Regions from separate parts of the Homo sapiens genome. Here all the other regions are linked to region 1. The links come from fine-mapping of genetic effects on gene expression. A gene starts in region 1. Each other region holds a variant in brackets. All regions are shown on one strand. Distances are between the middles of the regions.

Evidence for each region. PIP is the estimated chance that this variant, and not a neighbour inherited with it, causes the effect. A credible set is the group of variants that fine-mapping cannot tell apart.
Region 2: its variant is the best candidate, but not a certain one, in a credible set for the expression of DNAJC13 in blood mononuclear cells (TOPMed, PIP 0.60).
Region 3: its variant is the best candidate, but not a certain one, in a credible set for the expression of DNAJC13 in coronary artery (GTEx, PIP 0.61).
Region 4: its variant is the best candidate, but not a certain one, in a credible set for the expression of DNAJC13 in blood mononuclear cells (TOPMed, PIP 0.89).

The regions. Positions count from the first base shown.
Region 1 is chr3:132,413,891-132,421,763 of GRCh38, forward strand. It overlaps DNAJC13 (DnaJ heat shock protein family (Hsp40) member C13), which reads left to right and starts at 3,612. Exons shown (of 56, transcript NM_015268.4): 1 at 3,612-3,870. RefSeq lists silencers at 3,302-3,401, 3,682-3,821 and enhancers at 3,852-4,001, 3,941-4,476.
Region 2 is chr3:132,464,958-132,472,830 of GRCh38, forward strand. It overlaps DNAJC13 (DnaJ heat shock protein family (Hsp40) member C13), which reads left to right. Exons shown (of 56, transcript NM_015268.4): 18 at 1,038-1,113; 19 at 1,342-1,437; 20 at 2,213-2,356. Among named protein-coding and RNA genes, the nearest start is that of DNAJC13, 51 kb to the left of the region's middle. RefSeq lists an enhancer at 7,082-7,609. The variant A/G (reference allele first, on the strand shown) is at 4,362.
Region 3 is chr3:132,552,679-132,560,551 of GRCh38, forward strand. It overlaps ACAD11 (acyl-CoA dehydrogenase family member 11), which reads right to left. Exons shown (of 20, transcript NM_032169.5): 19 at 7,155-7,264; 20 at 5,463-6,407. The coding sequence ends at 6,293. It overlaps NPHP3-ACAD11 (NPHP3-ACAD11 readthrough (NMD candidate)), which reads right to left. Exons shown (of 45, transcript NR_037804.1): 44 at 7,155-7,264; 45 at 5,460-6,407. It overlaps LOC124909436 (a long non-coding RNA gene), which reads left to right. Exons shown (of 2, transcript XR_007096094.1): 2 at 1-978. Among named protein-coding and RNA genes, the nearest start is that of ACKR4, 41 kb to the right of the region's middle. The variant A/G (reference allele first, on the strand shown) is at 2,991.
Region 4 is chr3:132,495,863-132,503,735 of GRCh38, forward strand. It overlaps DNAJC13 (DnaJ heat shock protein family (Hsp40) member C13), which reads left to right. Exons shown (of 56, transcript NM_015268.4): 36 at 666-801; 37 at 3,264-3,448; 38 at 3,872-3,946; 39 at 4,932-5,051; 40 at 6,427-6,606; 41 at 7,352-7,519. Among named protein-coding and RNA genes, the nearest start is that of DNAJC13, 82 kb to the left of the region's middle. The variant A/AT (reference allele first, on the strand shown) is at 3,735.

The DNA.
Region 1 (7,873 bases):
CCAGAAGATGTCTAATCACTCTGGCCTGTCTTTAGCAAGAATCCTGTTACGTAGGTTTAGCCAGGATCCCCGCTCACCCCTGATGTTTTCTCTTAGTAATTTTCCATCCACTGACCCCCACACACTGTTCCTTGGAGATAAATGCATACTTGCCCGTGTCGTTTTCCGACCTGAGCCCCGTCTCTCTCCCTTACTGCAAGCCCCTGTTGCAGTGGCTCCTGTACCTATTGTAATGATCGTAAATAAACTGAATAAAATCTTTTTTGTGGGGAGCAGGGGGTACAGGGTCTTTCTCTGCTGCCCAGGCAGGAGTGCAGTGGCACAATTATAGCTCACTGTAACCTCGAACTCCTGGGCTCAAGAGATCCTCTCACCTCAGCCTCCTGAGTAACTAGCACTACAGGGGCATGCCCCCATGCCCAGATAATGCTTTTATTTTTATTATTTTGTAGCAATGGGGTCCCACTACATTGCATAGGCTGGTCTCAAACTCCTGGCCTCAAGTGATCCTCCTGACTTGGCCTCCCAAAGCCTTGGGATTACAGGTGTCAGCCATCATGCTCAGCCTATTACCAAGCTTTAACAAGTATCATTAAATAATACTTTTTTTTTTTTTGAGAGTTTCACTCTTGTTGCCCAGGCTGGAGTGCAGTGGCACCATCTCGGCTCACTGCAACCTCCCCCTCCCAGGTTCAAGTGATTCTCCTGCCTCAGCATCCCGAATAGCTGGGATTACAGGTATGCACCACCAGGCCCGCCTAATTTTTTTATATTTAGTAGAGACGGGGTTTCATCATGTTGGCCAAGCTGGTCTCAAACTCCTGACCTCAGGTGATCCACCCGCCTCAGCCTCCCAAAGTGCTGGGACTACAGGCGTGAGCCACCGTGCCCGGCCTAAATATTTTTTTCTTTTAACACGTGTAATCAATATAAAAATTGCTAATGCAACATTTTACATTTTTTTGTAACAATTTTAATTTTTATTCTGTGTTCAGTAGCCACATAGGGCTAGTGGCTACTGTACTGAAAACATAGTTCAAGCATTGTTGAGTGGTATGAGTTCTTAAGGATTTACTTTGGATCTGGGCATTGATATAATTAGGAAGGTCAATTTAGCAGCAATGGGAATTAGATAAGCAAGTGTTTGACATTCTTGTGGGCTCTCTAAAGTCTTAGATCACTCCAGCCTTGTATGCTAACTTTGGAGACTGATAAAGGCTATTGGTGCCTAAAAGGCTGTGAAATGTATTTTTTAAAAAGCTGTGAAATATTTTAAGTGTACATCACATAATTTAGATTGTAAATTTGATACATCTGCACTATGAAAGTGTCAGAAACGCTAGTGCAAACTTTAATTATGAATAAAAAGACAAATCCAGAAAAAGAAGTGTGCATTTGTCACTCTTAAAAAAGAGTTGGGTGGGGAAAGGATCCAACTGATTTAACCTAATAGGGAAAGAAGAGACAAGTCCTACTCTCCCTGACTCTTGTATTTTGTTGTGGCATTTTAAGAAGGATCCAATTGTATGGATCCAATTAAAAGCAACCAGTGGTTGTGAAAAGGCTTGAAACTACATCTTGTGAACAATGGTTGAAAGTACTTTGAATATGGTTTCTTAAAATGAGTATCTGTAGCAGGGGTAGTTAGAAGGATATGCACGGGAGAGGGAGTGGGAAAGGGTGATAAGCTGTACTGATAAGTGCTTAAATGAATGTCACATACAAGAAGAAAAGAGCAAGAAACAAAGACAAAATAACTACTCATAGAAGAGAGTGCAAGTTGGCTGAATACAAGGAAAATGGCTTATAAAAATGCAATGGAAAAAGATGTCTTGTGAGGCAATTTTGCACTACAGAGGATGGGGACAATTCATGATGCCTAAGGCTCCTCTCAACACGAGAATTGATTTTATTGGTCTCAAATATTGAACAGAGAGGCAGTGTGGAGGTTGAACAGTTCACTGGCCTTGATGTTACAGGCAGGCCCTGTGTCTTAATCTTGGCTCAACCTTTAGGAGTTAGGTCACCTTTAGCAAGTCTCCTGGACTCTCTGGGTCTGCTGCTTCTCTAAAATCGAAATAATATACCCCACATTTACTTTTGGGATTACTGGAAGGCTTTGTAACCACATAAACACGTTTCTGTTTCCATGGGATAAGCCAATAAGGCCCCTTAACACAGCCCTCCTGTTTCTTTTTCCTCCTCCTCCCTTCCTACTCTATTTCGGGTTCTGTCTTCCCACACCCAGCTATTCCTAGTACCTTCCCTTACATGCACCTTATCTTACTGCTGCATTACAGAAAAGTCTAAGGATAAACACAAATAGTCTTTTTCCGCCCTAAGGTAGGGCAAAGGGTTAATAGAATCAAGAGGTAAAGTCTGTAAAAACCATTTTTCCACATTTTTTCATCCTGCAATCGCTGTCTATAAAATGAGCCAACTTGCTGAAGGGGACGCCAAGAAATCACAATTTCAGGACTGCCATGAAGAATGAGTATTCAACTCCTTATCAGAGACCTTTAACCCTTATACAATAATGTATCCATGCAGGTCACCCTACACTGCCTCTACTCTGAAGTCTGCAGCAGAATCACTATTTTTTTTTTAATCACTAATTTTTAAACTGTGGTCTTTACGGCTCAGATCTGGGAGTGGACATTGACCTTTCTTATTTAAACCATTGCCCACAGATAACACATAATTTCTAGCCGAATCCTTTAGTCCCAATATCCCCTCTTTTCACTGCCCTGACTTCCCTCTCAGGTGAGGTTCAGGAAGATGGTTATCTAGAGGGCACAGGTTCTGGGTTCAAATTACTTGGGTGCAAACATGAAATCCACTACTCTGAGGCTGGGCCTCAACTTATCTGCAAAACGAGGATGATTCGTATCTCAGAGAGTTGAAGATTAAGCAGCTTTAAGTAAACTTCTAAACACTTGATCCGGACACAATAAATGGGGCTACCAGAACTATCTTTCCAGCATTCCCACCTGCAAATGCCTTAGGCGTCTCTGAGAATTTGGTCTCTGAGACCTTCCAGAGCATCCATAACTTAAACCCTGCTCTGCTGTCGTTCAGGACGTCTCAATAGTAAATGAACCTGCTGGCTCCCAATCCAGCCAAACCAGGAGATAGGCTGAGGCTTCAGACTGCCTCGCAGATGCTCCATGGCACTTGACGGCAAGAGCTAAAAAGAGGTGATTTAAAACAAGATTTCCTCGGACTTAAAGCTTAAGTACCGGGTTGCGACCCTACTCTCCGCAGGACATAAGCGGAGGGGCGCGGCCCTAAGGCACACGCCGGAGGGGCGTGGTCATGGGCACCCGCCGGAGGGGCGTGGTCATGGGCACCCGCGCGCGCCCAGGGGCGTGTCCTTTTCAGCACCCACCGAGGCGCCAGCCCCCTGACGCGCTGCGTGGAATCCAAATCCCACGGCCGGTGTCGTTACTCTGCGCATGTGTAGCTGCTGGGGGCTGGCCGGAGGAAAGCAGAATTTCAGGGAAAGAACGATCGGGACGGGGAGGACGGGGAGGGCGGGGCAGAAGACGGAAGAGTTGAAATCAGCTGACTGGGTCTCGTGACAGCCTGGGCGGTGGCGACGCAGGCGTATTAGAGCGCGCTCGCTCAAAGCCTGAGCGAAGATGGCGGCCTCCAGAGTGAAACTCTGAGAGGCAGAGGGAGGAGGCGGAGGGGGCGGGGAGGCAGCGCCGCGGCGGCACCAGGAACCCGCGGCAGCGGAGCTGCAGGGCCCCGGCGGGGGAAAGGGGAAGTGGTGAGGGTGAGGAGGCCGGAGGGCGCCTCATCCCACTCTGGAAGCTGAGCCGGCGGCGGGAGGAGCTAGGGCTGGAGCCTCTCCAGCCTCCCGCGAAGGTAAAGCCGACTCCGGGCACTGGGCTCTGGGGCTCTGCCTTACTCCCTTCCCACGCCGTGGGGACTTTGTGGGGCTCAGGGCAGGGAAAACGGGGTGGTCTTGGCTGCTGCAGCCTGCAGCTGCTAAGGAAGCAGATTACCCTTCCCCCAGGCTGCTGGTCTGGTTCCTTTCGTTGGACGCCCCCCCGGCTTTGAGTGACATTAGCTCAGGGCGCTGCCCTGTCCAGCCCCACCCCTTTTTTTTGCTTGTTTTATACCTAGTACGCTCCTCCACTCGCCTTAACATATCCTTACCCCACAGGCTCTTCATTCCCTTGTGGGTTCCGCCCTCGGGATTCCCTTCCAGTCTCCTAGTCTGAGCACCCTTCCTGCTGGATGCCGGCAACTCTTGTTTCCTTGGGTCAGCGACCCTCCTTCCGAACAAGTCCTGCAGACTGACTTTCTTTGCTTTGTTTCGTTTTGTTAGGAAATGAGCATCCGCGTCGTCTGTTCTCCAGTACTTTTTCTAAAATCATTTTCTCCCCTAAGGCTTTTCCTTCCTGCAAGGCAGCTTATTCACGTGGCCTTTCCTCCGCTGCTGTGATTTTATCTTTGAATGTGGCCTTTGGAGTGGGTAAAGTAGGACTTAGACGCTCAGTGAAGTGGCTGTTAATCACTTGATACTTAACTATGTTTAAGAGTGCCTTCCCTTAAATTTTCTCCTTTTGTAGCGTGTTCCGTTAACCACGTTTGTCTTAAGATTGTTTCCTGTGTCCGTTGCTTAGAGGGGGGAAAAAAGTAAAGATTTCACCCTAATGTGGCGGTGGTCTCCCAAAGTAATTATTTCTCATTTTCCCTCTGCTTTTCCCTTTTACGTTATTCTGATTTCCCTCAAAAAGGAGGTTCTGTACCTGATGCTGTTGCGTCCTCTATGAAGGGCTTTATAGTGTACAGTTATGTTGAGCCTTTTGTAATACAGTGTCTTGGGGAAAAAAGTAGAAGTTCAGAACCTGCCCCCAGTAATTCTTTCTTACTATATTTTCTTTCTCAGTTTATGGACTTGATAGGTTTCTAGGTTTGAAACTACTGCCTGCAGGGAAAATTACAGTGATAAGGTTTTATAATATATTACCAGTACTTTGAGTTTATGGGAGTATGAAACAGAATTTGCCTTAAAAAAATAAATTTATAGAAACCACTTGTCAGAAATTCGGTATCCAGAACACAGTTCTTTGATTTTTGGAAAGTACTTTATTGGCTTATCTATCATATAACGTAAAACCTTGTTCACATTTTGTGTAATGTGAAACGCTTTTTAAGCTACTATATCTCAGACTTGGCTTGTGCTGTTAGTATCACAATGCATTCAGGCAACACACGTCCTTGTGTAGAAATTATTACATTATACTCCTTGTTTGAAAACAGGAAGTAGAACATATTAAGGGAGGAAAAGAGGAGTCAGAGGATTATTAAGAAATAAGAATGTAAAGAACCTTAAGGCTAGAGTTCAGTTCATGGAAAATATCAGCATTTGTATTCCACTGAGAGGCAATGAATATTCCTCTTTTTCTAAAGTGGTAGTAATAAATAGTCTAAAATATATTAATGTTATATATTGTTAACAAGCTTAGTTGTAAACAAAATACTTAAGCTAAAAAATAAAATATTAATAAGTGAATGAATTGTTTGGAATAATTTAACTTTATCCACAAATAAATAGAAGATGGTTGCCTTGCCCAGGTGGACTGTAACAATACTGGCTTTATTAAATTTGTTAAAAGGTTGATAGTGGAGTCCGGTTCTCAATAGGTCCCAAATTAGGGTTGAAATTGAAAAGATGTGTTTTAACTAATTTGGCTTCATTCCTCAACCAGTTCTGTTTACACAGGTGAATATGAGGTTTCTGCTACACATACCTTTCCCCTGCTTCTGATTGAGGTACTTTAAATTAGTAATTGAAACAAGGCTGTGCAGATAAACTGCAGCACAAATTTGGTTGCTACAAATAGGTTTTGGCCTAAATGTTCACTGTAAAACATGGCAGTAGTTAAAGGGGAGTTATTAATATTTTGAAAGAGTTCCTTGAGTCAGTGTTTCTCAACTTTATTAGACCCAATAAAGGCTCCCTTTTTATAAAAAATAATTAGTAACACCTTCTTTGCTATCTTTAGTTTATAAATAATGTAACTACCTCTGGCTTTGGCCCTGAGACAAAAAAAGAAGCTTTGCTCTCACTTCTGCAACAAAAAAAGACCTACACTACAAATTCATGACTTTTTTGAAATCTATTAAAGAGCTGAGTCCACAGAGCAAAACCACTGGCTGAAAATTTGAGAGACAGTGCTTACAGAGAGTAGATGTCAATTTCTGTTTACCGTCTTCAGACACAACTGGACAAAAAGCATGATGAAAGCTGAATGCACAATCTTGCAAACTCTTATCCACAAACCTCCCTGGGTCTACTAGAAAAGACTGGAAAGAACCCTGGGTGAGTCTGCTGTGCAGATTGAGAGGGAGAGGAACAGCAACAGAACTTTTAAGAGGGTCAAGAAACTGCTGTGATTCTTCCCCTCTGCCTCTTCTATGGAAAAAAGCTTTAATCTCTGGGGAGAAGGGTATCTCTGTTGGCCCCATTGGTGAACATTCAGGGGGTAGATGAGAAGTGGGAGAGAATCTTATGCCTGGAGGAGGGGCCCTGAGCCCAAAACTGCAGTCGGGAGTGGTCAACAGAACCGAGAGTGCTGCCCTCCTGAGATTCAGGAACACAGTGTTTGACTTAGACTTAATCAGAACATCAGACTGTATCCCCCACCCCCAACCCCCTGCCACCAAGCTAAGAAGCTTTCAGTAACAAGTAACCCACAAAATACTACTAGGAAAGGAACAAGATTATGCAAAGAGGCACAACACAAAGAATCAAACAGGCATTGCTCTAGTAAACCATCGCCCACCAGAGAGACAAACTGTTCTGCAGATTCATGAAGGCTGTAATACACTGAGGATAACTATGGCAAAAACAAATCATAAACTAAGTCCAACTCCTAACCAGATTAACACAAACCCTTCACCAAAGGCCTCACAAAGAACAGGCGTGCTCATTTCCAGTCATAAAAATTACCTCAATCTCTACTCCTACACAACATGTCCAGCTTTTAACCAAAAATTATGAGGCCCATGAAAAAAACTCCCAAGAGAAAGAGCAGTCATCATTATACATTTTTTAAAAAGATAGGAGCTTAAAAAGAACTGTTTTGTACATGTTAAATACTATAATAATGACATTTTGCCTTGAAAAAGTTTGAGCAAACAATGCAGTGAGCATTGGATGGAGTTATAGTTTCTGAATTACTGTGAAGTAGTAGAAGGAAAAAAAGTTATAAGATGGAGTGGAAAATTAGTAACATATATGTGAATGTATGTGGTTCATTGACCACCTGAAGTGTGTGTGTGTATTTTGTGAATTCCTGCATGACTCAGTTGGGTACAATTTTCTGCGTTCACTTAGTGTTGGGACAGAATCACTATAAGCAAATGTGACATTTTCATTATGCTCAAATTGTTCAGTAATACACCAATCCTGTTAAAATTCACATGATCAAGAAAGCATTATAGCAGAATTGACTATATGCATTTCAATATGTAAATAGTTAAGTATGATTATACCAAAATACACAAAGGACGTGTCAGAGGCTTGTATCTTTACATGGAATCATTTTGAGATTTTTTTTGTGTGTGTGAGAGACAATCTTGCTCTGTCACCCAGGCTGGAGTGCAGTGGCACGATCTTGGCTCACTGCAACCTCTGCCTCAGCCTCCTGAGTAGCTGGGACTACAGGCGCTTGCCACCATGCTGGGCTGATTTTTTTTTTTTTCTGTATTTTTAGGAGACAGAGTTTCACCATGTTGCCCAGGCTGGTCTCGAACTCCTGACCTCAAGTGATCCACCCACCCAGGCCTCCCAAAGTGCTGGGATTACAGGTGTGAGCCACCATGCCTGGCCCATTTTGATTTTTGACAGAAATGT
Region 2 (7,873 bases), 51 kb after region 1:
ACTCTATTTGCATTGCTTTATCTTTTACAAATTGCTGTTATAAAATGTTATCTCTTTTGTCCCTAACTAAAGCCTTTTTAGGAGTCACTGATATGATAACCTACCAAATGCCAGTGAAGGAAATTACAAGTTTAATTACTTCAATATGTTAGCTTTCAAATTGGCACAGGAATGAACAGTTTTAGTGGCGTTCACTTTCTGGTGACAAAGTATATTTTGGGTTTTGCAGTTAAATTTTGTTCTTCAGTAATGTAACATATATAAAACATATGTTTGTGGGTGGTTATTTGGATATTTCCCTCATAGGTTTCATGACCATTCTTATAGCTATGGTAATTGAATCCCCACCAAAGCACAGAAGGGTCACTGGTGGGTAAAATAGGGTTTCTACTTATGAGGAGCTTTCAGTTAAGGTGACAGGTGTTGAATGGGGATTAAAATTAGTAAATGACTAAACCATAGATTGAACTTGGATCTTAGATTTTTACTTTGAATTAAAATATACTTTTATAGCTTTTAAGTGAGATGAGTTGAATAATTTGCTATAAGTGGTTTAGGTCTTTGCCCAAACTCTAGAAGTGAAAATAATTTTCTCTCTGATCTTGCCAAAACGGTTATATTAGAACAGTTGTTGACTTCTGCTTGTTCAGAATTCCAAAAAATGCCAGGATGCCATTGTCACTATATTAGTAGGACTGGTTAAACAAATTAATTGTGTCATCAAATCTAATTGTTTTTGTTGTTTTTTTTCTTCCTTTAAGTGGGATAAAAACCTACTTTTTTCCTGTTCGGGTTTATTGAAAATGAGTGTATGTTTATTAGGAAAACATTTTAATTTTTAGAAAATTCCAAAATATTAGTAATATTTGAATTATAACTCTCCACATTAAATTTTTTAATAACTATTTTTAACATCGGAATGATTTTTTTACTGTAGCCGTATTTTTTATAATTATGTGATATTTTGTTCTTAAAAATTCCTTTCTGTTCTAGCTGAGATAAAGCAGCAAACCTTTCTCAACGTCTGCTTTTTTCAGACAGCTAAGTAGACATTTAGTGGGACTCTGGACAGCTGATAATGCAACTGCAACAAACTTGTTGAAACGCATTTTGGTAAGTCAGTTGAGAAATTAGGTTATATACTGCCTAATAAAATTTAATTGAACAAGTTATCTGTACTGTTAAAAGGGGATGGTTTGTTTTTTATTGAAAAGTTATTTATCATAGGAGTTACCGTAAAGTTTTACCCTCAATAGCTAAGCCACAGTATTAATTTATTTGGGTTTTTAAGGCTAAATTTTCTTTTTCACATTGTTTTGAAAATGGATTTTGTGTTTTTAGCCGCCAGGCTTGCTGGCATACTTGGAAAGCTCAGATCTCGTACCTGAGAAGGATGCTGATCGGATGCATGTTAGAGACAATGTGAAAATAGCAATGGTAAATATGACTGTCCCAAGTGTGCCTTTTTTAGGAGTAAGGGTACTGTTATATATATGTCTTTTTTTGAAACACGTTAAAAATTTTAGAAACAAAGAATTCATTGCATTGAATAGTATACTTAACTATTGATATCTTTATTGAGGTAAAATTTACATCCCATAATATTCATCTTTTTAAGGTATACAATTAAATAATTTGTGGTATATTTACAGAGTTGTGCAGCTATCACCACAAATTAATGTTATGAATAGTGGTCATTTTATTCTGTGTTTTGTTTCTCTAATTCAACTTATTGGTACGTTCTGGAGTACCAGTAAGTGTGTAAATATGGTATTTTGCACATATGAGATTGATAAATGTTGTTGGTAAAAACGGCCAACCATGAAAAAAGTTATAGGTAGGGTTTTTTTCCTTACAAGATCTATGTTAATTATAAGGTTGGGCCATCCATGGAAAAATTAAACATCTTTATGATACACTACTATAATAATTTCTTACGTGTATTCTTTTTCTGTCATCACTCCTTCTCTGTCTGCACCCAGCTCCCACTTGCATCTTGCCACCCCTCATAAAAGAATCATCTTGAAACCTAAGTAGAAAAGTTAGTTTCTTGGATAAAAAGTATAATTGTAGAAGTTTTCAGTTTGTTTCTTCACTGAACCATAACATCCAGCATTAACCTTATAAAATAGATAGAATGACTCAGCTTTACATAGAGTTTTAAAATAAATTTGCAAACAGGCATGTAATGGATTCCAACATTATTTTACAGGATCAGTATGGAAAATTTAATAAAGTTCCAGAGTGGCAAAGACTAGCTGGAAAAGCTGCTAAAGAAGTTGAAAAATTTGCCAAAGAAAAAGTGGATCTTGTATTGATGCACTGGAGGGATAGGATGGGCATTGCTCAAAAAGAGGTAAAAATAAAATTTGCTTCCAAATTCCTGGCACTTCTGTGTGTCCTAGTCTACTTTAGTTCCTGCTGTTCACAGAGATGGTATCGATACATTTCTTGCTGAATACCTGAAGCTTAAAAATGAATGGTACCTAATTTCTTTCTTTTTTATTTTATTTATTTATTTATTTTGAGACAGAGCCTTGCTCTGTTGCACAGGCTGGAGTGCAGTGGAGCGATCTCGTCTCACTGCAAGCTCCGCCTCCTGGGTTCACGCCATTCTCCTGCCTCAGCCTCCCGAGTAGCTGGGACTACAGGCACCCGCCACCACGCCCGGCTAATTTTTTGTATTTTTAGTAGAGATGGGGTTTCACCGTGTTAGCCAGGATGGTCTCAATCTCCTGACCTCGTGATCCGCCTGCCTCAGCCTCCCAAAGTGCTGGGATTACAGGCGTGAGCCACCGCACCCGGCCGAATGGTACCTAATTTCTAATTCATATTTTTGTATACATTTTCCTTAGTTCATAGTTTTATGAGTTGATGATTAGGTTTTTATTTTGGTATTTAATATAGAATTCCACTCTTAATTTTTCTTCCATTCCAGTTTTTGTTCTTTTTTATTCATATGTATTTATTTTCTTCCCTTCTTCTCTGGACTTTGTTTTGCACCTATAAAAATAAAGGTGCTCTTCCTGTTAGCCTTTTTATTCAGAACTAGCCAGACAAGTGTTTTGGAGATTAAGATTCACATTTTAAATTCAATTTATTGTGCGTACTTAAATTTTGTAATATTTGTTTCTCAAATCAAAGTTAGATCTAAAACAGTTTTAGTCTCATTCTTCAGCATGCAGTGTGTTCTACAGAACCTGATTCAGTAATGCATTCTTCTATCTATAATGGGTTTGGCAGTGGTTGAGTATGAATTGAGATGTCCTGTAGAAGCAATCTTGATCTCAGTTTTTGTTGATCACACATACATTGTTTCTCCTTAATCTTCTCCTTACTTATGGTAGCTATTGCCATATTCAAGGAAAATAACTTTAATATCTTTCTAAAACAAGTGGGTTTCTTATGGATTACCAGAATACGTAAGCATAGCAGAACAAATATTATAGTCTTGTGTATCTATCTGAAATTGGGATCAATGTTCAATTCTTTAGAGCTCCAGAATAATAGATTACTGCTAATTTATATAAGTGATATATTCAATATAAAGAATCATTAGGCTTTCAAGTGACTATGTAGTATAGTAAAGAGAATACTGAACTTTGAGTTGGTTAACTTCTGAGCCTAGTTTCATCACTTGTTAATCCAAGTTACGGTTTTTAGAACCTTACTTTCCTCTTTCATAAATCGGAATAACAATACCTCCCTTCTCTATCTTATAGGGTTTTTTTGATATACAAGCAAAATAATAGTAAAGGCACTATATACATATATGGTCAGGATAATACTGGTATAGCATTTGAACAGTTGAAAAATCTACAGATATGAATGATTTTCACAGTTATTAAAAATTACAAGCTCCTGGCTTCAGGTAGTTAAACCGATTTCTAAAATAACAGTTCTTTCAAGCTGTTGAATATAATTATCATACTGTAGATAAGTTTTTGGCATCAGACTTCATATGTAACATTTATCCAGCATAAGCATGAACACAAAGCTCTAGTCTTAGCTAAAACTATGGATAAAAATCTGCTATTTTAAAACAATTGAGAGGGAAAAGGATATTTTTAATATAAAAGTTTTACTGGTTTGTTGGTATCATTTACATGGGGTATTACTAAAGTTTTGAGCAAATAATGATGCCAGATAAATGTTGGTCAAGAAGATCTTTTGGTTAGCATCAATGGCTTATCCCCTTTCTGCGTGGGTACTATTTTTAACAGTAATTTCTTTAGGGAACAGCAAATAATCTTTGTGACTATTTTATTAATAGAAACACTAACATCAAAGTTTGGAATGATCTTATGCTGTAGTTAGAGTCTGAAAACTAATCATTGTCAAGATTAACTGGCGATTCTTGA[A/G]ACAATCTGCATTTCTTATATAGTCAATGTTTATGAAGTCAGTTCCATTTGCAGCTGATGCTCTGTGCTGGATTAGTAGTAACCTTTGGCTAATGTATAAGGTTGCTTTTTCTTTGTTATTTTCAGTTAAGGGATTTGTTTAGCTAGTTAGAGCTGTTAGCCTGAGTCTCCAATTCAGTCACTTAGTTTATGGAGAGCTTTTTGTCCTTTTTCTGTATAGCATTTACATTTTTATTACTCTGGACTGCCAGCCTTTTGTCCTGGCGGGGAGGAGGGATTGAAGAAAGTACTTCTTAATTAGAAAGTTTAGGAAAAGATTTGTCATTAAACCAAATTTTGAATTATTTATATATTTTATTCAAGCCACTTTGCATTAGTTTTCATGATAGTGCACAGAATTAAAATTTGTAGGAAACATTTTCTTATATAACTTTTAGGGTTTATATTTGAAATAATATCTTTTAAAATTTATTTTACCTTTTTTCTTTCTATGTCGTCTAGTCTGGGGTTTTTTTGCACTTTAATGAAATTACAGACTTCCGTGTTTTAATCTATACCACTTTCTACTTTTTGTTTCTATCACAATGAGGATTAGAGTTTTCATATCTGATGTATATACATGGGTTTCATTTGGAGCAGAGATTCTTTTTTTTTTTTTTTTTTTTTTTTTTTTTAATTTATTTTTTTATTGATAATTCTTGGGTGTTTCTCACAGAGGGGGATTTGGCAGGGTCATGGGACAATAGTGGAGGGAAGGTCAGCAGATAAACAAGTGAACAAAGGTCTCTGGTTTTCCTAGGCAGAGGACCCTGCGGCCTTCCGCAGTGTTTGTGTCCCTGATTACTTGAGATTAGGGATTGGTGATGACTCTTAACGAGCATGCTGTCTTCAAGCATCTGTTTAACAAAGCACATCTTGCACCGCCCTTAATCCATTTAACCCTGAGTGGACACAGCACATGTTTCAGAGAGCACAGGGTTGGGGGTAAGGTCACAGATCAACAGGATCCCAAGGCAGAGGAATTTTTCTTAGTGCAGAACAAAATGAAAAGTCTCCCATGTCTACTTCTTTCTACACAGACACGGCAACCATCCGATTTCTCAATCTTTTCCCCACCTTTCCTGCCTTTCTATTCCACAAAGCCGCCATTGTCATCCTGGCCCGTTCTCAATGAGCTGTTGGGCACACCTCCCAGACGGGGTGGTGGCCGGGCAGAGGGGCTCCTCACTTCCCAGTAGGGGCGGCCGGGCAGAGGCGCCCCTCACCTCCCGGACGGGGCGGCTGGCCGGGCGGGGGGGCTGACCCCCCCACCTCCCTCCCGGACGGGGCGGCTGGCCGGGCGGGGGGCCGACACCCCCACCTCCCTCCCGGACGGGGCGGCTGGCCGGGCAGAGGGGCTCCTCACTTCCCAGTAGGGGCGGCCGGGCAGAGGCGCCCCTCACCTCCCAGACGGGGCGGCTGGCCGGGCGGAGGGCTGACCCCCCCACCTCCCTCCTGGACAGGGCGGCTGGCCAGGCGGGGGGCTGATCCCCCCACCTCCCTCCCGGACAGGGCGGCCGGCCGGGCGGGGGGCTGACCCCCCCACCTCCCTCCCGGACGGGGCGGCTGGCCGGGCAGAGGGGCTCCTCACTTCCCAGTAGGGGCGGCCGGGCAGAGGCGCCCCTCACCTCCCGGACGGGGCGGCTGGCCGGGCGGAGGGCTGACCCCCCCACCTCCCTCCCGGACGGGGCGGCTGGCCAGGCGGGGGGCTTACCCCCCCACCTCCCTCCCGGACGGGGCGGCTGGCCGGGTGGGGGGGCTGACCCCCCCATCTCCCTCCTGGACGGGGTGGCTGGCCCGGCTGAGGGGCTCCTCACTTCCCAGTAGGGGCGGCCGGGCAGAGGCACCCCTCACCTCCCGGACGGGGCGGCTGGCCGGGCGGGGGGCTGACCCCCCCACCTCCCTCCCGGATGGCACGGCTGGCCGGTCGGGGGGGCTGACCCCCCACCTCCCTCCCGGACGGGGCGGCTGGCCGGGCGGGGGGTTGACCCCCCCCCACCTCCCTCCCGGACGGGGTGGCTGCCGGGCGGAGATGCTCCTCACTTCCCAGATGGGGTGGCTGCCGGGCGGAGAGGCTCCTCACTTCTCAGACGGGGCAGCTGCCAGGCGGAGGGGCTCCTCACTTCTCAGACGGGGTGGTTGCCAGGCAGAGGGTCTCCTCACTTCTCAGACGGGGCGGCCGGGCAGAGACGCTCCTCACCTCCCAGATGGGGTCTCGGCCGGGCAGAGGCACTCCTCACATCCCAGATGGGGCGGCAGGGCAGAGGCGCTCCCCACATCTCAGACGATGGGCGGCCGGGCAGAGACGCTCCTCACTTCCTAGATGTGATGGCGGCTGGGAAGAGGCGCTCCTCACTTCCTAGATGGGATGGCGGCCGGGCGGAGACGCTCCTCACTTTCCAGACTGGGCAGCCAGGCAGAGGGGCTCCTCACATCCCAGACGATGGGCGGCCAGGCAGAGACGGTCATCACTTCCCAGACGGGGTGGCGGCCGGGCAGAGGCTGCAATCTCGGCACTTTGGGAGGCCAAGGCAGGCGGCTGGGAGGTGTAGGTTGTAGTGAGCCGAGATCACGCCACTGCACTCCAGCCTGGGCACCATTGAGCACTGAGTGAACGAGACTCCGTCTGCAATCCCGGCACCTCGGGAGGCTGAGGTTGGCGGGATCACTCGCGGTTAGGGGCTGGAGACCGGCCCGGCCAACACAGCGAAACCCCGTCTCCACCAAAACCAGTCAGGCGTGGCGGCGCGTGCCTGCAATGGCAGGCACTCGGCAGGCTGAGGCAGGAGAATCAGGCAGGGAGGTTGCAGTGAGCCGAGATGGCAGCAGTACAGTCCAGCTTCGGCTCCGCATGAGAGGGAGACCGTGGGGAGAGGGAGACAGAGGGAGAGGGCTGGAGCAGAGATTCTTAACCTCTGGTCCATGTACAGACTTTAAGAATTCTTGAAATCTTCTCTTCCAGTTGCAGCCTTAAGTATGTGCCTATCTCTGAAACAGGGGCCATAGCTTTCTTTGAATTCTCAAAGGGTTTATGACTGCCTAAAATTTGAGTCACAGGCTTAGAGAAGCAGGTGCACCTATTTTAGTCTTAAAGTAAAGATAATTTTGTATTGATGTGTAATAGATATAATTTAGCAGATCTAGGCTCATTCTCTTTTTATTTTCTTTAACTTTTTTTCCTTTTTACGATTAAATTCAGGACAAAAACAATATGGTGAGTGTAAGTTCCTGCTACGTGTGTGAAATGCATTAAGCTGCCTGGCATGTGGAGTCATCTTTGATATTCTCTGTTTAATAAATTCAAGTCTTAACTTCACATGTGTTTGAATGTAGACACATTTCTTCTCCATTAGCTATTTCAATTTGTACTTGCTCCTCTTGGCTTTGGTAGCACTTTAACAACCTGTAATCTTTTGCATTTATTGTTGTCCCAAGGCTTTTGTGTTAACTGCATGTAAATGTTTGAAACAAGT
Region 3 (7,873 bases), 140 kb after region 1:
CCTCCCGAGGCTGTGTCACAGGCATGTCCTTAACCTTGGCAAAAGACAAAACAAAACAAAACTTTCTAAATTGACTGAGACTTGTCTCAGGTATTTGGGGTTCACACTATGCTCCCTTAATTATCATAGTGGACAATTGTTTGGGGCTGCTCAGCATCCATCTCTATTTCTAATAATGTCCCAAGTCTTTTTCTCCCCACTGAGTGTGAGTTTGGTGAGAGGGTGACCTCTGAAACTGTGAGGACCAAGGGGCTACAGCTGAGTGGCCCAATACAGTAGCCACTAGCCACACATGACTACTGAGCACTGAAATCGGGCTAATGTGATTGAATTTTTTTAAAAAAATTATTTATTTTGAGAAAAAGTCTGGCTCTGTCACCCAGGCCAGAGTGCAGTGGCACTATCTCAGCTCACTGCAACCTCTGCCGCCTGGGCTCAGGTGATGCTCCCACTGCAGCCTCCTGAGTAGCTGGGACTATAGGCGTGCACAACCACACCCGGCTAATTTTTGTATTTTTTGTAGAGATGGGGTTTGGCCATGTTGCCCAGGCTGGTCTCAAATTCCTAGGCTCAGGTGATCCGCCCACCTCGGCCTCCCAAAGTGCCGGGATTATAGGCGTGAGCCACTGCACCTGGCCCTGAATTTTTCATTTAACTTTAAATGAATTAAATTTAAAAACTGAGTTTAGTTTTTTGAAAACTGTGAAGTATGTTTAGAACAAGTTGGGCATGTGAACCTACTTTTTTAACTGTACATTTTATGAAGCTTACTTATATACAGTTAACTTTTGGAAGATCAAGTATTTCCACTGAAACTTTAGCTTCCAAGTTGAAATGTGCTATAAAATATATTGGGATTTTGGGGAAAAAGTGTAAAATAGCTTACTGATAATTTTTCCTATATTGATTACATGTAGAAATGATAATATTTGGATATATTAGGTTAAATAAAATTAATTTCATGTGTTTTTAATGTGACACTGTAAAATTTTAAATTACATACATACCTTATATTTCTATTGGTAGCACTGGAAGCACTCTCCTCTTCCTGCACAGCACAGAGGGCAGGCCTGCAGACTGAGCTTTGTCAACCATGTGCACCTCAGAGCCAAAGCAAGGCAAGGGCAGAGAGATCTGGTGGACAAGGTCAGATGGAGATCACCAATGCAGGGGTGTCTCTCTCATCGGCCAGGTCAGGCTGCTCTGGTCCCAGCTGCAAAGACCTGCTTCCTTCTCTGCCTGTGTCTTGGCGGGATATTCCAGAATTCCGTAGTCTTCCCTTCCCACACTAATGCAACAGATTTCTTTTTGCTCACATTAGCCAGTCTTTTCCTAGTGTTTGCAGCCAAGAACGCTGACATAATCAAGACTTGTCAGGAAGCGAGGCTCTCTCTTCCCTGACCATCAATTCACTAGAATCCCAGGTGAACCTCGTTATTACTAAATAATCACCAGGGCTGGGGCTGAGGCAGCTGTAGCTATAGCAAGCTGCTCAGGTGATTCTGATGCTCAGCCAGGGTAAGAACCACTGCTTTAAGTTTTTTGTTTTTTGTTTTTTTTGAGACAGTCTCACTCTGTCACCCAGGCTAGAGTGCAGTGACGCAATCTCGGCTCACTGCAACCTCTGCCTCCTGGGTTCAAGTGATTCTCCTGCCTCAGTCTCCTGAGTAGCTGGGACTACAGGCGCCCGCCACTACACCGGCTAATTTTTGTATTTTTAGTAGAGACGGGGGTTTCGCCATGTTGGCTAGGCTGGTCTCAAACTCCTGACCTCAGGTGATCCACCCACTTTGGCCTCCCATAGTGCTGGGATTACAGGCATGAGCCACCGCACCCGGCCCTAAGTTTTCTTTTTAAGTGTCTGCATGGCAAGTGAGGGAACATGAGCCTATGCTACTACACTTCTCACATGGAGGTTAATCAAACATCCTGCGTTCCCTGCCCTTCTGCAGCTGGCATGCATTCACGCATTCAACAAATATTTATTGAGGACCTATTGTGCATGCTCCGGGCATTGCTCCAGCTTCTAGGGATGCGGCAGCGAGCAAAACAGACAAGAACCCTTCTCTGCTAAAACATACTTTCTAGCAGGGGGAGAGGAAGAGATAATATGCAAAAGAAAAGAGAAAAATACATAGTATGTCACACGATGAAAAGTTCTAAGAAGAAAACCAAAGCAGGGAAAAAGAGCGTTGTGTGTGTGTGTTGGGAGGGTATAGAAATTTAGATGGGATGGTTACAGAAGGAATCCCTGGGAGGTTACATTTGCAGGAAAGGAGCAAGCCTTGAGGACATGCAGTGGGGGGAGAGTTTTCTAGGCAAACAGAAAGGCAAGTGCAAAGACCCTGAAGTAGGAATATATCTGGGATACTGGAGGAACAGCAGAAGGCCAATGTGTTGTGTGGAGAGAGTAAGGAAACAGAGCAGTAGAAACTGAAGTCAGAGAGGTAAGGGTGCTGGAGGGAGGGGGTGTCTGCACCCACTTAAGAAAATGAGACAAAAGGCTCCTCATCGAGGTGATTAGCCATCAGATGAAGGAAGACTGGGGAAAATACCTTCTGGAGATCCTATCCAAGCAACTGCTCTCCATTTCACCTGTACTTATTTAGGGTGTCCTAGGAGTGATGCACCTCTCCAGGATAAACTGTTACACTTTACTTGGCCACATAATTTGGGGGTGAAGGTAAGGCAGAGAGAAACCCTTGTTTCACAGAGCTTATGCTAACTACACTCTCACACTAGAATGGGCGTGGGTTTTCTTCACAATAAACTCATAATCACCACAATGAGAAAGAGGTGCTGAAAAGAAAAAGAAATAAAAATATCACGGCAGGATCATAAATCCTAAGTGCTCTTTGTCTGTCTTGAATTAGGGAGGACACTTCCCAGAATCCTGCTTCTTTGGAAAATTGGAAAATTCCAACAATCACCAGAAGTGGTTTTGTTTCTTTTAGGCATCCTGACTTCCCTCTGTACCTAGAGCTGATCAC[A/G]GCCCTCCAGCTGATTAGACTAGATTAGACATCAGGAGAAAAAAATGAAATGCGTATTTCCCTGGATTGTTAAATACTCATTAAACACCTGTTCCATCAACTGACTTGCCCAAACTGCTGTGCACCCCCACTGCCAGGACACTGATGTCCTTTCTCAGGCTTAGGTTTTCTCCAGCTACCCATAACCCCTTCTTGTTGTCCAGCCTCTGTGTTGACCGGCTGGGGCTCAGGCTTTGGCTCTGTTCTGTTGGCAGACCTATACATGAATGCTTTGCTCACTCACCGCTTGCTGTGCTGCAAACCAGGGATCAGGAGAGCATCCATGCACACTCATTCATTCATTCATATGCTTTGTGAGTGGCTACTGGATGTAAGGCATGGTTCTAGGGGCCAAGGAGACACCAGTACACACACACAAAAGTGAGAGAAGTGAACAGAGGAGGGAAAAATGGGCCTTGCACTTGAGAAGGCAGACCACAAATAAACATGAAATATGTCAGGTGATAAGTGCTGTGGGAAAACAAAGGCAGATAAGCAGGTGGAGAATAACAATGCACGTGGTGCTAATTTTTTTCTTTTGAGATGGAGTCTCGCTCTGTCACCCATGCTGAAGTGCAGTGGTGCAATCTTGGCTCACTGCAACCTCTGCCTCCTGGGTTCAAGCGGTTCTCCTGCCTCAGCCTCCTGAGCAGCTAGGATTACAGGCATCCACCACCATGCCCAGCTAATTTTTGTATTTTTAGTAGAGACGGGGTTTCACCATGTTGGCCAGGCTGATCTCGAACTCCTAACCTCAGGTCATCCACCTGCCTCGGCCTCCCAAAGTGTGGGATTACAGGCATGAGCCACCACGCCCAGTCATGGTGCTAGTTTCAAGCAATGGTCAAGAAAGGACATTTTAATAATGTGCCTTTTGACCTAGACATCTGGAAAACCTCAGTGTAGATCCTTTCAGGCAGAGAAAACAGTCTGAACCACGGCCCAGAGGCATGGCTGTGCTCGCATGTTGGAACAGCAGCCAGAAGGCTATGCTGGAGCGAGTGAGCCAGGGGGATGAGATCAGAGAAGTGTCAGAGGACAAGATCAGATGGAACCTCGTCAGCCAAAGCAAGGACTCTGAATTTATTCTAGGTGAGATGGAAGCCACCGCAGCATTTGAGGTCATCCTGGCTGCTGTGAGAATAGATTAGAATTCCAGTTAAGAGACTACTGGAGTAATCCAGGCAAAATAAATGGTGGAGTAAGACATGTGACAGACAAACAGCAGCCTGTCAACAGGAGGTCTTCCCCCCTCCCCTTTCCTCTGCTCCTTGGGGAGGGATCATCTAGTGTCAGAGAAAGGGAGGAGCCAAGCGGGGCTGCCTGGCTTGACTGAAATAAGACATTTTTCATAGCAGACATTTTCATAAATACACTGCACTTTATATCCTTTATTTAAGAATGTTACGAATTTAAAGCCCTTAGAAAGCCTAAGTAAAAAATGCCTGCCTTCTGAACTTCCCCGACACTGTGTTGTAGCTTCACTCAAGATCAAGGAGAAAAGCAGTTTTGGGCAAGCCCTGCCCAATGTATCCATTAAAGTATCTAAACTGCTTTTCACCTACTTTATTTCCCTTGGACAAAATGTGTGCATGCCCATGACACCTAAGTGAACCACAGTTGTATGGAAACAGCTGGGGTGATCAGGACCCACCCTGAAGAAGCTTTTATCAATAACCACAGGTTGATGAGGAAATCAGTCCTCCATAATCCGCTGAACTTTCTGTTGTGTGTTCTTATAGTTAAAAAGGTCAGTTACCAGAGACCCTTAACTAGCTCATCCCCTGGACAATCATAGCTACCCCCTGTGCACCCTAAATGTTTTGCTGGAGAAAGACCATGACCAGTCTAGGGAGCCTCATGGTGTCTTCCCTATCCGGCAGTCTCAAGGCCCCCTCCTCGAGGCTCTGTCGCTGACCGCCTGGCAATCTTGGAGGGGTTTTCATGGGTAGAGCCCTGGCTGGTGAGCTCTCTCCTCCCCGCTCCCTCCCTGCCATCTGATTATTAGAAAGGGCAGTTTCTCTCTTTAAAACCATGTGGTTTCAAGCACATGGCAAACCTAGCAGACTGTCCCAGATGAACGGCTGCCTAGTGACTCCCAGTGACAGCCTAAGGAGACAGAACCCTAGAAATGGCCACAATGCTGAGGAGTTTACCGTTGGTCCATTCTCTCACCAGGACTGGGGCCCTGATCCTGAAACTGATCTTCTCACTTTATCCTTTGGAGACTTTTTTCCTTTTCAAAACAATCCTTGGTGTTCTTTTTAACATAATTTTATCTGACTAAATTCAGGGAAGGGAGAGAGGTAAGTATAGATCATATGGAGTGACTTGCCTTAGGGATGGCCAGATACATGACAATAGATTAACTAAAACAAATCAGCAACCAATCCAGCCAGCTTTCCTCAGACAGAGAAACAAATTACAAAATTGTAAGGACCAGATATAGCCTTTAATTCCTAATGTTCAAAAACAATCCTGTCTTCTAAATCACAACTTTTCGAGTTACAAGATTTATCCACTTCAAATAAGGATACCTTTTATAAAGTACTTTCTTGTGGTTTTACAGATTTCAAGGTGCTTCTACGTGGCTTCAGCAATTCTCACAACAAACCCTCAGTGGGTCAGGGTCTTCTAAGATTAAAATGTTAACACCAATGCGTGTGAAGTACAGTGAAGTACAGTGAGGTTAAGGCTCAGTGGCAAACGTTAAAGAGGCCCACACAACACACCAGGGATCAGAGCCAGGTCAAATTCTTGCTCCCCACCTCCACCCCACCTCAAGAAGAAATTTATTTTTTGTTTTTATTTTTAGAAACAGTCTCACTCGGTCACCCAGGCTGGAGGCCATGTCACGATCACAGCTTACTGTAACCTCAAACTCCTAGACTCAAGCAATCCTCCTGCCTCAGCCTCCCAAGTAGCTAGGACTACAAGCATGTGCCACCACACTTGTTTCATTTTTAAATTTTTTGTAGCAATGGGGGTCTCGCTATGTTGCCCAGGCTGGTCCTGAACTCCTGGCCTCAAGGAGGCACTAGATTGAATGACAACAGCTACAGCATTTCTTACTGAACTTAACCCTGTGTGACCCTTGAAATAATAAAACCCACTGATCAAAATAGATGCTATAATCTTTACCACAAATGAATAATTAACCCTGTGCTCAAACTGCTACAAAAATATGAGATTCAAATGTTGGAGCCAATGAAGTTTGTATAAAGGAGAGTTTCTGCCAGTGGGATGTGGCAGTGCCACCCTCCTTATATCTTGGCTGTCAGTCTTTTGGCTTGGTCCCGCAGCTCCATTGTTGCGATTGCTGAAAGATGAACTTCGTCAGGTCCATCTGCTAAACGCAAAACTCGGGTTATAGCATACCTGAAAAAGCAAAAGAATCAGGGAACACAGGGAGTTATGGAAGAGGAACATGATACTTTGACATCAGTCACTCTGATTGTCAACCAAGACTATATTAATTCTTAAATTCCACCAAGGTCAGGGTAAGAAAAAGGGTACCAGGAAAATAAGCTAAAGGGCTTCTGCAATGCCATCTTAAAGTTTCCAACTTGGGAAAGTTAAATGCCAAAGTACAGTGGAGTTCATCTCATTCTTGGTTTGCTACAGTTTACTACATGTTGCTAGAACTTAGAACAGGCAGTGACTGGTATGATACTATATATTTAGTTCTTTCTTAAGGTTTAAAATTGATGAAGGATGAGACTCTATCTCCATTGTGATAGAGAAGGTGACACTGTAATTATGTGTGGAGATGGACAGATGGGGAATGGAGAATGTTCCTTTCTGCCTCCCAGTCATCAGGATCTATATATTAGATAGTCACTGACATGTCCTGCTACAAATTCAGCGAAACCCCATGCTGTATCTACAGCCCAGGAATCCTCAGTGGGACCCCTCAGTGTAAAAATTAACATAATGGAATGAAATGATTATTGTAATAATAAGAGCAACTATTTCTTGGTGTTGAGCTCTATATTAATGTATATCACTTCATTTAGCCTTCAATTACACTGAAAATAAACATAAGCAATTAATGTCAAGGCATCTGTAGATTTTTTACCTCCACGCCTATCAAACGTAGATGATTCTTAAATGACATCTACTCACATGTTAGCCAGAGGGTAATCCTGGGAAACACCAGCACCTCCGCACACCTGGATGGCCCAGTCAACGATTTTGCTGACAGCCCGTGGGGCAGCCACTTTGATCATTGCAATCTATATAAGCAAAATATGAAAAGAATGCTTCTTTCTTAGACTATACACAATGTGGCAAAACTGGGAAATGAAACAAGGAAACTTTCCCACATCCAAGTCACCACTAAAACAGGATCTTTAACAAAAGCCAACAAAGAGATCCTGCTGCAATGCCATATTTCAGTCAATACAGACCCTCTGGAAAGAGACACCTCTTCCAAATCACATTTTATCCATTTATTTCTAACTTGTCTTGTTTCCAAAAGGATTTCAGGCAGCTGATAAATCACACTCATCACCTTAGGGATCATAAAAATAGTCCAAGGGTCTTTGCGCTATTAATCAGGTTTCTTTTAGCAGTTTTATGGGCTTTTAGAATTAAATGATTATGTCTTTATTTCATATAATCCAGAAACATAAGAAAGCAAAGGATGAGAGGTCTCTTTCATGAAACATTTACTATGTAGCAGTATCATGCTGTGCATTTTTTGTTTTGTTATTTGAGACAGGCTCTCACTCTGTCACCCAGAATAGAGTGGAGTGGCTATTCCCAGGTGTGATCATAGCTCACTACTGCTGCCTCAGAATCCTGGGCTCAAGCAATCCCCCTGCCTCAGCCTCCCTGGGACT
Region 4 (7,873 bases), 82 kb after region 1:
TCAAATTCATCTAGGAGAAAAAATAAGAATGGAAGAAATTTTGAAATCTTTTAAATTGCTAGACTTATCAGATATTAAAACACTTCATAAAGCTACAATAGTAAAACAATATGATACTGACACAAGAATCTACATATAGATAACTGAACATACAGTGTAACAGTTTAAGAGCATGGAGTTAGGAGTACCTCTTAGCTCTGCCACCAGTTGATTTTGTGTCCTTAACCAGGTTACTATCTCTAAGTTGCAGCATCCTCATGTAAAAAATGAGGATGATAATGGTACACACTTTACATGGCTGTTTGAGGATTAAGTGAGATTATGGCATTTAGCACAGTGCTTAATAAACAGTAGCTCATAATTTTTGTTATATAGACGCAAACTCTCTCTAGTATGTATGAGTTTAACATGATGTATTTAAGGATACATTTAATATTCTTATTTGAAGAATTTTCAGTAAATGGTATTGAGATCATTAGACAACTATTTGAAAAAAAAATTTCACCTTAACAGTATACCAGCTAGATTACAGTTGGAATGAATACCTTAATATAAACAATAAAATAATAGCTAAAGTTACTGATAAAATGCAAACCATATGTCTTGTTTAAGTTGAATTTTGCGACATTCCAAATTAACGTTAAATTATCTTCTGTTACATACAGGACATGTTTGAAAAAGTAAATAAAGCATATGAATTTTTATGTACCAAATCAGCAAAAATAGTGGATGGGCCAGATCCAGAGAATATAATTTTAATTCTAAAAACACAGAGCATCCTCTTCAACCGTCATAAAGAAGGTAAGATGTCTGTTCTCAGATTTTAATTTATCCTCCAGCTAACCTTATCACAGCTAACCCTATACCATATTACCTGTTTCTACAGCATATTTAATAGATTTAGAATTATTGTTTAAAAGATTCTTGGAATTATGTTTTAAATAAAGGAAAATGTAGTTTTCTAAAGAAGGGCCCAAATATTTGTTTTATATCTTTCCCTTCATAACTATGTTTTTCAGTATTTTGCATTTCTGACATCTTCGCTCTGTGGAGTTACTTGGTTAGTTTTTGTGTTTAGCCATTTAGTAGCAACGTGTTAAATGAGACAGAATGGAATCTGGAATTTAAAGATCATTTCATGTTTTCTTAAATGGCATATGAAAGCCTATCATAACTTTAAAAGCCTCTGAAGGTTAAAAACACCAAGAGCATTCAGATTTTTTAAAAGCAGTAGAAACTTTTCAAATGATGATATACTTCTCATACGTTCTATTTCCTATTGTAGCTCTCAGGACCCTCTAGTCCTGTGGGACAGTTTGAAGAACACTGGTATAGATGAAATAGGTGTAATTTCAGATTACAGGATTATCCAGTGTTTGTGGGGCCATTTGCAGTAGCCCTAACAGTAGCAGTCAGAAAGCCAGGAGTATGTTCAAAACATCCCCCTTTGTTGGGGATGAGGGGTTAGGTTCAATATGGCAGATGCCCAATGGCTTGGGAACTGAACTTGACTTACAGCACAAAGTGGGAGAGCCATTTGCTATGGTATGTTGGGAGAGAAGGAAGAGGACTTTCAGGATTTGAGATAAGCATGGAGAGTGTTGGGTAACTAAAGACAAGAGATGGTGTTGCAGTTTAAGTATTGGAGGGGACAACCTGAGGATCTAGCAGTTGGATTATTAAAGAGAGCAGTGATTAGTTGATTTACTTTTACATGAGTTTAACAGAATACGTTTATAATACATTTTAGATATATGGCTTTTACTAATCAGAATGAGTTTGGAAACCTTTTTCAAAACCCTTGGTTGTCTTTTAATGCTGATAACTAAATTATTAGCCACAAGATACAGTTATGGCCCATCCTGGTTTCTCTGTTATCAAGGTCATCTTTAACTTTTCCCAAGAGGGGTTTATACCCAAGAAGCTCTGAGGTGGAGGTCCTGATCTGACAGGACTTAGTTATTCACTGTTCTTTCTTATTACGTATGTGTCACTTTTTTTTTTTTTAAAGGAAAATTAGGACCTGTTCCAGGGGGCCTTTTTTTTAAAAGCCAGTTTAGAAATGAGTTTTAAGGCAGATTATTGGTCAGCCTCAAAAGTCAAAAAGATTTATGCTGATTTCAATTGGAATTATAGAGATACTTTTAAAGTCACAGCCAATTAATTTGCATCTCTTTGCCTAATAGGTTAGATTGAAAAAAGAAGATGGAAAGAACAGAGTAATTAGGCATGTAGGTTTACTAGCTTTCACTTTTAAATTTGGTTATTAAAACATGGAATTAACTAAATGTAGTTTAAAAGTTAACTTTCTGTTTTGTACTTCTAGTAAGAAATTGTATTATTTTCAAATTTAAGAAAATACTGGTAAAACTTTAAGATAACTGGTAAAATAGATACCAGTTATCTTTAAGATAACTGGTAAAATAGATACTGGTAAAATAGATAAACAAGGGCACTTGTTATCCAGAAAACTTAATATAAAATATTCAGTGTCATGTAAATGTCTTCTCAGTCTTTTTTCTTTATAAAGATGTGCATATAATTGATATTAATAGAATTTCTGGTGCATTTGCTGTACCTTGCGTTCTGTGATGAGGTGAAAAGTTACAAAGATCAGCATAGAAAGTAGGTATTCTGCAAAGGATCAAAACTATACACCAAGTGCAGTTAATTTACCAGAAAATGTTATTTTTCTAGTGGAAACATTTTAGAAAAATCAACCAAGTTTACTAGAAAGGAAGGATCCAAGGGATTTTATAGTAGGTTTAATTTCTTTTTTTATCAACTGGCATTAGGAGGCATTTAAGATGTTAAGATAAAATATTTTATCTTTTTTTTTACGTTTTATTTTATTTTATTTTTATTTTTTTTGAGACGGAGGCTTGCCCTGTCGCCCAGGCTGGAGTGCAGTGGTGCCATCTCCACTCACTGCAAGCTCCACCTCCCGGGTTCACACCTTTCTCCTGCCTCAGCCTCCCGAGTAGCTGGGACTACAGGTGCCTGCCACCACACCCGGCTAACTTTTTTGTGTTTTTAGTAGAGAAAGGGTTTCACTGTGTTAGCCAGGATGGTCTCAATCTCCTGACCTCGTGATCCACCCACCTTGGCCTCCCAAAGTGCTGGGATTACAGGCATGAGCCACCATGCCTGGCCCCATTTTTATTTTTTTAAGGCAACATATTCTTGAACATGGTATCAAAATTGAAACCACAACATAATCAATTTTGTTTTGTTTTTCTAACACTAACCATTGGTTATTTCAGATTTACAGCCTTATAAATATGCAGGATACCCCATGCTTATTCGGACTATAACAATGGAAACTTCAGATGACCTCCTTTTCTCAAAAGAATCACCATTGTTGCCTGCGGCTACAGAGCTAGCTTTCCATACTGTCAACTGTTCAGCCCTCAATGCTGAAGAGCTCAGAAGAGAGAATGGACTAGAGGTAATACGGAGTGACCTTTGTGCTTTTTAAGCCAGTTTACACACATTATATGACTCTTGGCAGTGAAGAATTCAGCAAGTACAAATGCAGATTCTTTAATTTATTTCAGCAGATAACACAATATTTTCCATATTCTTATACCAAATTAAAGGTAGAAATGGAGCTTTATTTCACAATGTGAGTTGGAAAGTATTGGGTTCAAAACCGATAATGGTAATATTGTTTACAAAGTAGCTTATTAGAAATGCTTAAAAGGAAACTTTTAGGAGTCCTTTGTTTACTATTT[A/AT]TTAACAAATGTTGATCAAACATTTATGTATCAAATATTTAACATTAAAGGGTTATTTATATTTTATTACTGCTAGAAAAGGCCTTTCAGACTTGAAGTCAAAATGGAGAGTTAATAGCTGACTTCTTCCTCTGCAGGTGTTACAAGAGGCATTTAGTCGCTGTGTGGCTGTCTTGACTCGTGCTAGTAAACCAAGTGACATGTCAGTACAGGTGAGGCTAAAACCTGTGGTTCCAAGAAAATTGCACTAGTTCAATGGTTCAGACTTTAACATATCTGAGAATCAACTGGAGGGCTCATTAAACTGTAGGTTGCTGAGCTCCACCCCACCCCAAGTTTCTGATTCAGTGAGTCTGGGGTGGTGGCCTGAGAGTATGTTTTTATAACAAGTTTCCAAGTGTCATTGATGCTGCTGGTCTGTGTATCACACTGTAAGAAACTGTACTAAAGCACTTGTGATCTGTTGGCTTACGTTTTCTTTCTTAGAGAATAGTTTATTGAACCCATATGTTTCCATTACCCAGCTTAATGCCATTCTTGTTTCACATATCTTCCATCCCTCACTCTCCTATCTCTAGTATTTTAATTGGCTTAACATTTAAGGTTGTAAGATAGGAAATTCATCAGGAGTTCATTAAGAGCTTTGTAGAGCGTGTCTTTCTATTTGACCTTTTGCTTATGCCAGCAAAATTCAGAATATAAAACGAGTACTGGCTGTTGAGTTCCATCCTCTATTTTGAAGTCCGTTGTGTAAACAGAATTGTGATATTCTGCTATGTTAATAAACTATACAAAATTACCTTAATCCAGAGGCCAGCAAACTTCTAAAATAAAGGTCCAGGGAGTAAATATATGAGTCTTTCAGGCTTCATACAGTCTCTGTTACATTTTCTTTTGTGACTTTTTTACAGCCCTTTAAAAATCTAAAAACCATTCTTAGCTCTTTGGCAGTACAAAGACCATGGTCAGTTTGGCCCATGGGTTGTAGTAGCTGTGGTTTGCCAACTACCCCAGCATTTATAGGAAATCTTAATGAGAAAGACTAGTGATCTAGTAAAGACATTCTGTTTAATTTTGGAACATTGTATATACCATTAAGCATTATTCACAAATTTCTGCTGGTTTGATTTCTATGTGTTAAATAAGGAATGCCTATGTGACTCTACTGGTTTTTTTGCTCTGTTGTGTTGTCTGCAGGTGTGTGGATACATAAGTAAATGCTACAGTGTGGCTGCTCAGTTTGAGGAATGCCGAGAGAAGATCACGGAAATGCCTAGCATCATCAAGGATCTCTGTCGGGTACTATATTTTGGCAAGGTAGGGTTAATCTTTAATGCTTTCTAGATACAGACAGCAAAGTGTCTTTTTGTCAACTAGCCAGTTCCTAATGTATAAGCACATTGTTTTCCCAAAGTTATTTGTAAGTAAAATTATTTGGATTTCTAAAAGCATTTTTCACAGAAGCCTTGCTGTAAATGGAGGCTTTGCTTCTAGGCTGGCCTACAAAGAAAAAGACTAAAGTGATACATCTAAAGGGAAGTGGGTTCCATCTGAACATTAGAATGAGTGGCAGGGAGAAAAGAGAAGCCTGTAATAAATAAGTCTTTTAAAAGCAAAAGGCCAGCCCGGTGTGGTGGCTCACGTCTGTAATCCTAGCACTTTGGCAAGCCGAGGTTGGCAGATCACTTGAGGTCAGGAGTTCAAGACCAGCCTGGCCAACACTGCAGAACCCTGTCTACAAAAAAATACAAAAATTAGCTGGGTATGATGGCATGCGCCTGTAATCCTAGGTATTCGGGAGGCTGAGTATTTGGCTGAAGAACAAGCAACTCCAGAAAATTCAACCATAAGGAAAAGTTTAGCTGGCATGCTGACACCCTATGTTTCTGTGGCTAGTGTGACTGAGATATATGCTTCAGAGGTAGCCTGTGCCACTACACTCCAGACTGGGCAAGAGAGTGAGACTCTGTCTCAAAAAAAAAAAAGAAAAAAAAACAGGGCCATGTAAAACCTGAAAACTAGAGAGTTCGGCACTGCTTGGTGGGAAAGGCTTTAGAGATCTGAGAACTTACTATTTCCTCCCAATCCAGACCTGCTGAGGAAGGTTGACTGTGGGTAGATGAGATAGATGACTGGGAGGGAGAGAGAAATGTCTTAAATAACTGGGCAGAGTGAGAATTGTCTTGAATAAAACAGGATCGAGATGCTGATCTAGTACTAAAGTATCAAGAAGTGAGGGAATTGATGAAAATATCTCCTCTACTATATCTACTTAATGTCCTTAGAAGTATTTGATTACAGAATAAAAAACTGACATAAATAAATCTTTTAACAACTGCACAAAATATGTCGTTACATTTAAGATCACTAGCGTGTAAGTTGCTATTGATGCCATGTCACTATTTTTAAAAATTAAAAATACAAGAAGTGAAACAGGAAACTATTCCCAAGTCTTCTGACATTAGCCTTAAAGGTAGTAATTCTGGTATCTCGTCATGAGGTCACTTTTAATTTTAGGCTTTAAAGGATGTAGGATTCAGATTTAAATTGGAATTGAAAATGTAAGAAGAGGTAAACATTTTACAAAATAACGTGGTTGGCTTGACATACATGCACAACCAGTTCCTCTTGGGAGCTTTTTTTTTTTTTTTTAACTCTGTAACAACTAATGCTCTCATTTTTATTCTCTCAGAGTATTCCCCGCGTAGCTGCTCTTGGGGTAGAATGTGTCAGTTCTTTTGCTGTGGATTTCTGGCTACAGACACACCTATTTCAGGCTGGAATTTTGTGGTATCTCCTTGGTTTTCTGTTTAATTATGACTACACACTAGAAGAGAGTGGCATTCAGAAAAGTGAAGAAACAAACCAGCAGGTAACTTTAACATTGCTTTAATATTGAATTTGAACCCAAACCTTAGGTTGGTGTTAAACTAATCCAAACCAAAGCTGCTATCCAGAGTCCCCAGAGATAAATTGTTTTTCAGGAAAATTAGGTTTTTTGCTTTTTAAACCTAATCACTTACTTACAAAACTTTTAGTTGTAATTGCTTATGCTTAAAGGATTCCAGGCAAGGGAATTTGCAATAGCATATACTGGACATAATTTAATAATTTCTTAATTACTCAGAGTCAACTTTATGATGGCAAAATTATGGTTGTGTAACACAGGACAATATAATGTTACCATCAGGCAGTTGAGGCTAGCTCCCCTAAACACTTGAGTACTTGTCTGATTTTTATAGATATTTTTCTGTCTCTTCTATGTGCTCTCATTTATTGCTCATATTGTAAATGTGTGCTTCTAGCAGGCAGGGCTGCCTACCTATCCCCTACTCCCCACATTACCACCAAATGTGCTTCTTCCAGTTGTCTGTGAGATATACTGCATTGGGTATAAGTTAGTACATAGATTCTCCTGGTCCTTCTTATAAATAAAAAACAAGCCCCAACACATAAACTTTCTGATGTTTACCTCAGTGGTAGGTACTCTTGTACCCTTTTGTTGGTTGACTTTTTACTCCTTAAATATGTTCCATATAGTGTGATTCTGTAAAATTATAGTATTACCTATGTAAGATAACAGATCTACTTTAACAACTTAATTTTTTTTATAACAGGAGGTAGCAAACAGCCTTGCCAAACTGAGTGTCCATGCTCTGAGTCGCCTTGGAGGGTATTTGGCTGAAGAACAAGCAACTCCAGAAAATCCAACCATAAGGAAAAGCTTAGCTGGCATGCTGACACCCTATGTTGCTAGAAAACTTGCTGTGGCTAGTGTGACTGAGGTATGTGCTTCACAGGTAGCCTGGGTTTTAATCAATAGTGCAAGATCCTTTAAGCAGTAAAGTAGTACAATAATATTGATCTAGGGAACCTAAAAATTAAGAACGTTCACATGTTTGTTCTCTCAAGCAAGAAATTCACTTTATAATGGATTGATGCTAATGATGTCAGTTCTACAAGTCCAGTTTTTGCAAGGGCAAATTAACTTTGTTTCTCAGCTGTGGAGCCTATCATAATTCTTACCAACCTTGAGTCACAAAGGGACAGGACGAGAGAGTGAAGTTGGAATGGTGTTTCACAATGGCAGACTACTGGGAGACAGGAGACCCAGAGTCTATTTCAAGCTATTTATTGTA